Linked DNA regions of Homo sapiens: region 2 is linked to region 1. Evidence: fine-mapped expression QTL. A gene starts in region 1. The other region holds a variant in brackets. All regions are shown on one strand. Distances are from middle to middle.

Region 1 (5,378 bases):
GATTTTAAACCACCGACATAGACTGAAAGCAAGAAGAGTGCTGTGTTTGTTGCTATATCCCCTCCAGCACCTAAGGCAATGCATTTCACATCTTGCTGAGAGCAGCTAACTCAATACCTGGAACTAGAAAATTAGAATCTAAAAGACGGAAGGCATCTAAAGACCAGTTCCCATCATGCCACAGCTGAGAAATTGGAGACCCAGGTGGTTAAATCAGATATTGAGTTAATGTCAGCTGGAATGCAGATGTTCCTACTCTGAGTTGAGTGCCCTTTCCTCTGTCAGGTTGCTTGTTAGCTAAATGAATGAATGACTTTACCACTCGATTTGTATGAAAAAAGGAGGCCAGAAAAGAGACTAAAGTTAAATGTGTAATTGTTTGTATAGACTATATTTGCCAACTTAACTGAAGTTTTCCACTTTCAATTGATTGTTTGCATTCATTGACTTAGATATATTTTTCATCATTTAAAATGTTTCATCAATGCATACAAACTCCAGACAAATAACAAGTCAGATTTCAATATAGTATTAACTCCAATTCCTCTATAATCTATAATACTTAAATAATTACATGATCGGACTGATCCAAATATATTTTAATGTCTTTATATGTCAATGATGAAGGATGTAAAATCTTCATATTATGTCTCTATTATGTAACTGCTTCAAGAAAACAAAAAATTAATAAAACCTAACACATGTAAATAAACTCTGACATAACGTGAGTCCATGATATTCACTAGCCAGATTTTCAAACCTCATTGTCCTTTAAGAGCCCAATTTTAAGCTGGGCGTGGTAGTTTACGCCTGTAATCCCAACACTTTGGGAAGCTGAGATGGGAAGAAAGTTTGAGCAAGGGAATTATAACCAGCCTGGGCAACATAGCAAGACCCAGTCTTATTCAAAAAAATTTTTTTAAATTTTTTTTAAATCCAATTTTTGCCCTTTAGATTTTTTTTTTAACCAACCAACAATTTGCCAGCTTTTTTTTTTTTTTTTTTTTTTTTTTGAGACGGAGTCTCACTCTGTTGCCCAGGTTGGAGTGCAGTAGCATGATCTCGGCTCACTGCAACCTCCTCCTCCTGGGTTGAAGCAATCCTCCTGCCTCAGCCTCCCGAGTAGCTGGGATTATAGGCATGTGCCACCATGCCCGGCTAATTTTTGTATTTTTAGTAGAGATGGGGTTTTGCCATGTTGGCCTGGCTGGTCTCGAACTCCTGCCCTCATGTGATCCACCCACCTCAGCCTCCCAAAGTTCTGGGATTACAGGCAGAAGTCACCACACCCAGCCAGCCAGCTTTGAGTTTCATTTCTTTCATTTTCTTGCTCATCCTCAGAGAGAGAGGTTTAAGAAGAGAAATAAAGGGGAAAAACGGGAAACAGAAAGGCGAAAGGTATAGATGCCTCAGGAACTGACAGGGAGTAGCAGTCAGGCTCCTGGAAGAAACGAGAAATGTAGCAAGGCATGGTCAGGAAACACATGTCTATCCATGCTCCCACTCTCTCTGCCTTTCCCTCTCTTTCCCATCCCTCTTGCCAAGAAGTGAGTTGGCAGTCTTACCAATGACAAACAAAATAGATAAAGCCTCCACACTGAGATTTAGAAACCCCACTTTAGCCAAAACTAAGTCACTTACATCAAATTGTACCATGACACCAAGCATTCCTGTCCCCTCCCCTGCAATGGCAATCAAGTGTCATAGAAAAATAGCCTTTTAAAATTACCATGAGCCTTTTATTTTTATTTATTTTTACACCCAGGCTGGAGTGCAGTGGCGTGATCACGGCTCACTGTAGCCTCAAACTCCTGGGCTCAAGCAATCCTCCTGCCTTGGCCTCCCAAAGTTGGCTCAGGGTTGAGGAGCCACTGTGCTCAGCCAACCATGAGGTTTTTAGAGATGATCTTGTCTAAACCCTTCTCGCCTGTTTTGCAGAAAAGAAAATTGAGATCCCAGAGAAATGAAGTAACTTGCCCAAGGTCATTCAGCAGGCAAGATAGAACTAGATCCCCAAATTGCAAACTAGCTGTCCAGAGTTCTTTCCTCAATGAGCAATTTAAAAGCTACAGAATGTACAAAAAAAGCTCCCCAACAGTTTAGATATAAAAACAATTACAAAGGCACAAAAGGGCAGGAAAACTCAATAAAACTATGAACTTCACCCATCCCACCTCCCAGAAACCCAGTGACAATCAAAGCAGCGTCAGGCTGGTTCAAGGAGTAATGGTGTCTCCAACAATTTAATTGCTCTTCTTCCTCCTTTACCCATTTCTCACAGGCAGAGAAAAAATGCATCTAAGACTACTGAAACTTACTTTGAACCAATACAGATGTTTGTTGATACCTGAAATTTAGTGATTCGCAAATACGTTTTCTGCCAAGAGCTTACAGAAATCACACTCTTAGAGCTAAAACATCAGGTCATTCCATGAGTCTCAAGCCCTGGAGAAAATTAAATGCCTTCCCCAGAAACGGGTCCTCTCCCCTGTCCTGCGCAGGTAACAAACGCTGCTGGAGAGACTTGGCTTCATCAGCTGTCTAAATGCAGACTTTTCAAGAAGGTGACTCAAGAAACTAACATTCCAAAACAGGACTTCAGAAAAAGAAGAAAACTTTTTCTTACCCTTAAAAATGACAGAAACAATAGGATCCGGCTTGCCAAATTTCGTTTTAGGGATATTGCTGGCAGATTCCACAATCACTCGCAGCATGGTTCTTAGCTGGTAGAAAGCAAGTTTCAGCAAACGAAGTGGAGACTAGGGCGCTGGAGCTCCGGGTCGCACCGCCCTGGGAGAGAAGTTCTCTCCCAGTGAAGGGAGGATTTCTCCCAGGGCAAGGAAGGGGAAAAGGCAAAATGGGTGGACCTCTGGCGGATTTTACTGAAGGCAACGTGTAAACTGATACCGAACTCCCCGCGTCTACGCAGTGCCGCAGGCACAGACTTATGAATTCGGGAAATGTGGAAGTGAAAAGGACAAACCCTAAACTAAAAATAATTCCGTGCGACAAATGAAACCAACATGAATTTGGAGCTAAGAAATACGGGTAGGTCAGGAAACCACTAAAATGTTGCTGCCTTTTAGCAATGGTTCGTGAAACTGAATTAATTGATTTTTCCGTCACTGCTTTCATTCTTTTCTGAGTTTCAAGGAGTTTTAAAACTTTAGTCATTATTTGCTTTTGACTTTTCGCTGTTACTTCTCACGCCATTGAACACACCCACTCAGTAACCCTATGTTCAGCTTTTTTAAAGCAGCTAAAGGGTGCCTCTTACTGGACGGCAAACGAATGACAGCGTTTATTTCAAGTAAACGCGATCCAGGCATGGGATATATAAATAATTACATATATGTATAAATAATTATATATATATATATATATATATATATATATATATATATATATATATATATATATATATAAAGGACTGAACATAGAATTTCTTCAAAACCCCTTCAGAGGTGAGAGCTGGGCGCCTAAGTTTTCCCGGCTCTTCAAATGCTGCCAATTGCCTTCAGTGAAAATGGAGAAGTGACTCCCCACTGTTTCTGGACCTACAGCTGCCCATGGTGTCTTTCTGTCCCAGAGGGTGCATGAAGACAGTGCAGCTTGGCTGAGATCACAAGAGGCGGCCTGGGGTTAGTCAGCCAGATCTGAGTGTGAGACTCTGCCTCACCACCCTGAGCTACGTCATCTTAGCAAGTTTCTTTTCTTTTCTTTTCTTTTCTTTTTTTTTTTTGACGGAGTCTCGCTCTGTCACCAGGCTGGAGTGCAGTGTAGCGATCTTGGCTCACTGCAACCTCTGCCTCCCGGGTTCAAGCGATTCTCCTGCCTCAGTCTCCCGAGTAGCTGGGACTACAGGCGTGCGCCACCACACGCAGCTAATTTTTTTTTTTTTTGTATTTTTAGTAGAGACGGGGTTTCACCATGCTGGCAAGGATGGTCTCGATCTCTTGACCTTGTGATCCGCCCGCCTCGGCCTCCGTGGCTTGAGCTTTACTGGCTTGAGCTTTACTGGCTTGAGCCACCGTGCTGGCGAGCAAGTTTCTTAACCCCTCTCTTCCTCAGTTTCCTCATCTATGAACTGGGGATAAAGGCTGTTATAAGATAAAGGTCATAGCATAGGAGCTGGCACAAAGCACACAGTAATTTGCACATGTAAGAAGTTCATGCTTATTTGTGGTCTCACAGCGTTTCTGTTAGTGCAGGCTGACTTTAAATCAGGATCTCGTTATATTTCAGAAGAAAAGGCTAAAACTTGGGATGAAGAAACATTGGGCTTCTTTTTGCTTTAGAACACACATCAAGCAGACCCACCTGTAAATAAACATTTCAAGTACATTGAATAAGCATGACTTAACCTACAAGAATTCTTCTGTCTCCACGAGTTTCTCCAAGGCTTAAAGCAAAGAACCAATTACCCAGTGCTGTGTTCATTATTGTATTTAGTGGACATGTTGGCAGTTTTAGTGGAATATAGAGATTATTACTTTTATTTTATCTGGCTGCTTTCTATTTGCCATTTTTACTGTGAAATATATTTACAGAAAAATGCATACTACATAAACGTGACAGTTTAACAAGCATCCAGGTCAAGACAGAACATTGCCAGTCCTCCAGAAGCCCCTGGAATACCCCATATATCATATCCACCTCCTTCTCCCAGAGGTAACCACTCTCCTGATTTTTTTTTCTTTTTTTAGATGGAGTTTCACTCTTGTTGCCCAGGCTGGATTGAAGTGGGGTGATCGGCTCACTGCCACCTCCACCTCCCGGGTTCAAGCAATTCTCCTGCCTCAGCCTCCCAGGTAGCTGGGATTACAGGCGTGCACTACCACACCCGGCTAATTTTGTATTTTTAGTAGAGACAGGGTTTCACCGTGTTGGCCAGGCTGGTCTCAAACTCCTGACCTCAGGTGATCCATCCACCTCGGCCTCCCAAAGTGCTGGGATTACAGGCATGAGCCACCATGCCTGGCCCACTCTCCTGATTTTTATGGTAATGATTTCCTTGCTTTTCTTTGTAGTTTTTACCGAAAACAACAACAACAAAACAGTTTAGGTTTGCTTGCTCATGACCTTTGTTTGGTGATATAAATTCTTTTGTATGTTATGAACTTTACATACAACACATATATTCATATATATAGGTACACACATACATGTGTTCATACTTTGTGAATTCTTTGCTGTATTATGACTTTATAGAAATGGACTCATACAGAATGGATTCTTTCGTGTTTGACTTCTTTTTTCTCAGTATTATATTGTGAAATTCATTCATGTAGCTCTACTTCCTTCACTCTTGTTGCTATATGGCATTTCATTGTATGAGTTTCTGACATTTTATTTATTTATTTATTTTGAGACAGAGT
Region 2 (5,378 bases), 30 kb before region 1:
TCCCCTTCCCCAAAACTTTGAAATATGGGAAATAAAACTGGCTTTTGGGAGTTGGGGTGGGGAATAAATAATCATATAATAGTTCGCAGCTGAGATATGCGACAGAAACTTAAAAAGCTAGAATAGTTTCCAGTGCAAGAGAGTGGGACCAGAACCTGCTAGAATGTATGCAGGTATGTATTCATTTATTTAGAGATGGGGTCTCACTATGTTACCCAGGCTGGTTTCTAACTCCTGGGCTCAAGTGATCCTTCCACCTCAGCCTCCCAAAGTGCTAGGATTACAGGCATGAGCCACCACACCTGGCCCAGAATGTATTTATATAGTTACAGAAAAATATGCAGGGGGCATCGGTCAGCAACAGAGAATGGTAAAAAGGATGTCATCAAAGGCGAAGATGGGAGTGCCTATCAAAGCACTGTCCAGGGAGTCCATGTCTGTGCAGACTCTCTTATTTTGATGCCGGTAAGCAGAAGACCCCAATAACTGGAGTGACCATCTAATTTACTGTACCCCTGTAATCCCAGCACTTTGGGAGGCTGAGGTGGACAGATCAGTTGAGGCCAAGAGTTCGAGACCAGCCTGGCCAACATGGTGAAACCTCATCTCTACTAAAAAACACAAAAATAGGCCGGGTGCAGTAGCTCACACCTGTAATCCCAGCACTTTGGGAAGCCGAGGCAGGCAGATCATGAGGTCAGGAGTTCGAGAACAGCCTGACCAACATGGTAAAACCCCATCTCTACTAAAAGTACAAAAATTAGCCAGGCATGGTGGCACACGCCTGTAGTCCCAGCTACTCAGGAGGCTGAGGCAGGAGAATCACTCGAACCTAGGAGTCTGAGGTTGCAGTGAGCTGAGATCGTGCCACTGCACTCCAGCCTGGGCGACAGAGCAAGACTCCATCTCAAAAAACAAACAAACAAACAAAAACCACAAAAATTAGCCAGGTGGAGAGGTGCATGCCTGCAATCCCAGCTGTTCAGGAGGCTGAGGCACAAGAATCACTTGAACTAAGGAGGCGGAGGTTGCGGTAAGCTGAGATTGCGCCACTGCACTCCAGCCTGGGTGACAGAGTGAGACTCCATCTCAAAAACAAAAAATAATAATAATTTACTGTCCAAACCCAGCCACGTTGACTGCAAAAGGGGCATTATTAATCACTGTGCTAGGACAGCAAACCAGGACTGTCTCAAGCAATCAGAGCATGTGACCACCTACCTCAACTAATTTATCCTAAATTTTTGCTCTCACTGCAGCCTTCAGATTATATCAGATGTGCCTAAGACATACATTTTTAAATGTACTAACATTACTAAAAACTGAAATGCTTCTTACAATTGATGGGGGCATTAAATATCACGCTTTTTTTGGCCCCTAACCATTTATTAATTTGATAGTATACTTTATAAACAATAACATCTTGAAATCGAGGATACAAAGTAATTTGGCTTCCCATGTGGTATGACTTGAAGGAAAATTCATGGGTTGGAGGGTAGAAATGCCCTGTCACTAGGCAATTGACTTCCACCAGAAGGAAAATAAGCAGGTATTCTGGTTTTAAGTATTAGTATCAGCTGGGCACGGTAGCTCACACCTGTAGTTCCAGCCCTTTGGGAGGCTGAAGCGGGTAGATCACCTGAGGTAAGGAGTTCAAGACCAGCCTAGCCAACATGGTGAAACCCTGTCTTTACTAAAAATATAAAAGTTAGCTGGGCGTGGTGGTGCACGCCTGTAATTCCAGCTACTTGGGAGGCTGAGGCAGGAGAATTGCTTGAACCTGGGAGGTGAAGGTTGCAGTGAGCCAAGATTGTGCCACTGCACTCCAGCCTGGGTGACAGAGTCAAAAAAAAGAAAAAAACCTTTAGTCTCTTGTGAACTTGGTTAGTTTGAATTGGTAACATACGACTGGGTCTACAAGGCCAAAGTCCAGATCCAGGACTAGGGTGAATTTATTAATACTAAGATCATTCTGTCCCACGGGAACCTGTTTGGGAAGTCTCCCAATTTTACTCAGAGGACAACCCTCAGTGTCACCACGGGCACCACCGTGACCCTTCCCCATGTGAAAGGAAAGAGGCAGTAAGGCAAGGATTAAGGTCTGTTTAGGTCTGTTGGGATTAAAAGGCGAAGGAGACATTAACATGGAAATGGGGCTGAAAGTAAAACTTGAATGAGACATGTATAGGCCACAAATAATCAGAAGAAGTGATTTGGGTTGTATCCAATATCACTACAGTTCAGATAAACTGCCAGAGGTAGGAAGTGCAGTTGACCAAGAAGTTGTAGGCATGTGAACAGGCTTCACTCTAAGTGCCAAGTTTGATAAACTAGTCTAGGTGGCTC[G/A]GTGTTTGCAGCTTTTTTGGAATAAAAGCAGTCATTGGGAAAAAGTGCTGTGATGGATTAGCCACATCTGCTATTGGCTTAGAAGGGAGCGGGGCATGGAATTAAAGCACATTTATATTGGAAGTATTATAATACGTTATTAAAGATGTGTCTCTTCAACAAAATAAACAACAGTGAGATAGTAATACCTAAAATGAGAAAAACAGGTGAAAACAACTTACTTATTTTGTCCAATTGTCTCAAAATCTTTCACAATAATCCCAAGGGAAGATGAAAAGTCCAGTGGTATACCCCTCAAGTCAAACTCCAAAATCTGTTCACAGAAAGGTTTTGAAAAAAGAGAAAAAAAAAGGCTGTTAGAAGGAGCAGAGATTACACTAAGATGCACCAGTACTACATGTTGGGTCATTATTTTCACCAATGACAATCTTTTGAAGTTATGCAGAAATGATTAAATTCTAAACCTGAAGGCAGCTGAGGGGGCAGGAAAGCAAACCAGATGTCGACTTAGAGGACCTGTAGACAACTCCTGGCTTCCTGCTTTCTAGGTTCTGTGGCTTCAACCAGGTGACCACACCCCTGCTTCATACTCAAGAGCTGGACTCAACGACTACCACAACTGCTGCAAGAATAAAATGCAGGGTGTTGTTCTCACTCATAAGTGGGAATTGAACAATGAGAACACTTGGACACAGGATGGGGAACATCACACACTGGGGCCCGTTGTGGGGTGGGGGGAGGGGGGAGGGATAGCATTAGGAGATACACCTAATGTAAATGATGAGTTAATGGGTGCAGCACACCAACATGGCACATGTATACATATGTAACAAACCTGCACTTTGTGCACATGTACCCTAGAACTTAAAGTATAATAATAACAAAAATAAAAAAATTAAAAAAGAATAAAATGCAGGGTATATGTGAAAACATTTTCTTCAATGGCTAGTTTTAAATTATCTGCTCTTCTTAATCATACTACTATCAAACAAAGAAGATGAATAATCTAAGAAAACATTTTCTAAAATGCCTCTCATTTTAAGTTCCACCATGGTCGGTCAATGCTATAATATACCGACCTTTCTGAGACTCTCATTTTAATGCAGTAAGTTGCTTCCTAATGACAAAAGTAAAAAAAAAAGATTGATAAAGCGTCACTGATGCCTTTGACTGATTAGGTAATAATTAAATGATGACTTGATCCTCCTTGTAGTGGGCTTGGAATGGAAGGAAAACTTGTTTCAGAACTTCTTAAAAAATTATTTTTAGCACTTCTAAAAAAAAACAAGTTCTCAGTCTCCTCAGTAGCTGGGGATTACAGGTGTGTACCACCATACCCAGCTAATTTTTTTTTTGAGACAGAGTCTTGCCCTGTTGCCCAGGCTAGAGTGCAGTGGCACAATTTCAGCTCACAGCAACCTCCACTTCCCGGGTTCAAGCAATTCTCCTGTCTCAGCCTCCCGAATAGCTGGGATTACAGGCGCCTGCCACCATGCCCTGCTAATTTGTGTATTTTTAGTAGAGACAGGGTTTCACCATGTTGGCCAGGCTGGTCTCGAACTCCTGACCTCATGATCCACCCGCCTTGACCTCCCAAAGTGCTGGGATTATAGGCGTGAGCCACCGCACCTGGACAATTTTTGTAGTTTTAATAGAAACAGGGTTTCACCATGTTGGCCAGGCTGGTCTCAAACTCCTGACCTCATGTGATCTACCCGTCTTGGCCTCCCAAAGTGCTGGGATTACAGGCATGTGCCACCACACGTGGCCTCAGAGCTTCTCTTAGAACACACCCAGCCTGGGAATGGTGGCTCATACCTGTAACTCCAGCACTTTGGGAGGCTGAGGCAAGGAGTTCAAGACCAGCCTGGACAACTTAGATTCTGTCTCTGTGAAAAATTTAAAAATCAGCAGAGCGCAGTGGTGTGTGCCTGTAGTCCCAGCTGCTTGGGAGGCTGAGTGGGGAGGATTGCTTGAGCCCAGTTAGTTATGGCTGCAGTTAGTTATGACTGTGCCATTACACTCTGGCCTGGGTGGCAGAGGAAGACCCTGTCTCAAAAAAGAAAAAAAAGAGCCGGGCGCAGTGGCTCATGCCTGTAATCCCAGCACTTTGGGAGGCCAAGGCAGATGGATCACCTGAGGTCAGGAGTTCGAGACCAGCCTGACCAACATGGTGAAATCCCATCTCTACTAAAAATACAAAATTAGCCAGGCGTAGTGGCATATGCCTGTAATCCCAGCTACCTGGGAGGCTGAGGAAGGAGAATCACTTGAACCCAGGAGGCGGAAGTTGCAGTGAGCCGAGATCGCACCATTGCACTCTAGCCTGGGCAACAAGAGCAAAACTCCATCTTAAAAGAAAAAAGAAAAAAAAGAACACACCCAGCACCAGCAATCCCAGTGGGTTTGGGGTTGACATTTCATTTGTGTTTGGTTTCAATTATAAAACAGTTTACTTGATAAGTACATCTGCAATATGAAAGGAAAGAAAAAAAAAACATGTTGGAAACAAAATGGAATAAGATGGCTGATTCCCTGCAGAGGACATGCCAGCTCGCATGACAGCACATCTCTCTCTGCCATTGGTCACGTGGCTTGATCTCAATCTCAAATTTGAAGAGATGAGTTGGGATGATTCAAAATCTGAAGTAGGAAGCACTCTCACATAAATGCATTTTTTATTTGCTTTATTCTTGGAGTTCTGTCAGGTGCTAGGAATCCACAATGACCAACCCAAGGGGCCTCTTGCTCTCATGGAGCTTGTAGTCCAGCTGGCTGTGTTCTGGATTCTGGGGAAATTACAGATAAGTGGAATTCCCTCTCAACCTGCCTGAGACCTGCTGGGCGTTTCAGAAAGGCATTAAAAAGGCTGGGCAGAGTGGCTGACGCCTGTAAACTCAGCACTTTGGGAGGCCAAGATGGGAAAATGGCTTGAGACCAGGAACTCAAGACCAGCCTGGGCAACATAGCAGGATGTAATCTCTACAAATGTTTTTTAAAATTAGCTGGGCATGGTGGCTTATACCTGTAGT

Evidence for each region. PIP is the estimated chance that this variant, and not a neighbour inherited with it, causes the effect.
Region 2: its variant is the best candidate, but not a certain one, in a credible set for the expression of MYOF in transverse colon (CEDAR, PIP 0.55).

Annotation. Positions count from the first base shown.
Region 1 is chr10:93,479,481-93,484,858 of GRCh38, forward strand. It overlaps MYOF (myoferlin), which reads right to left and starts at 2,854. Exons shown (of 54, transcript NM_013451.4): 1 at 2,627-2,854. The coding sequence starts at 2,714.
Region 2 is chr10:93,449,483-93,454,860 of GRCh38, forward strand. MYOF (myoferlin) reads right to left here. Exons shown (of 54, transcript NM_013451.4): 3 at 2,568-2,659. Among named protein-coding and RNA genes, the nearest start is that of MYOF, 30 kb to the right of the region's middle. The variant G/A (reference allele first, on the strand shown) is at 2,347.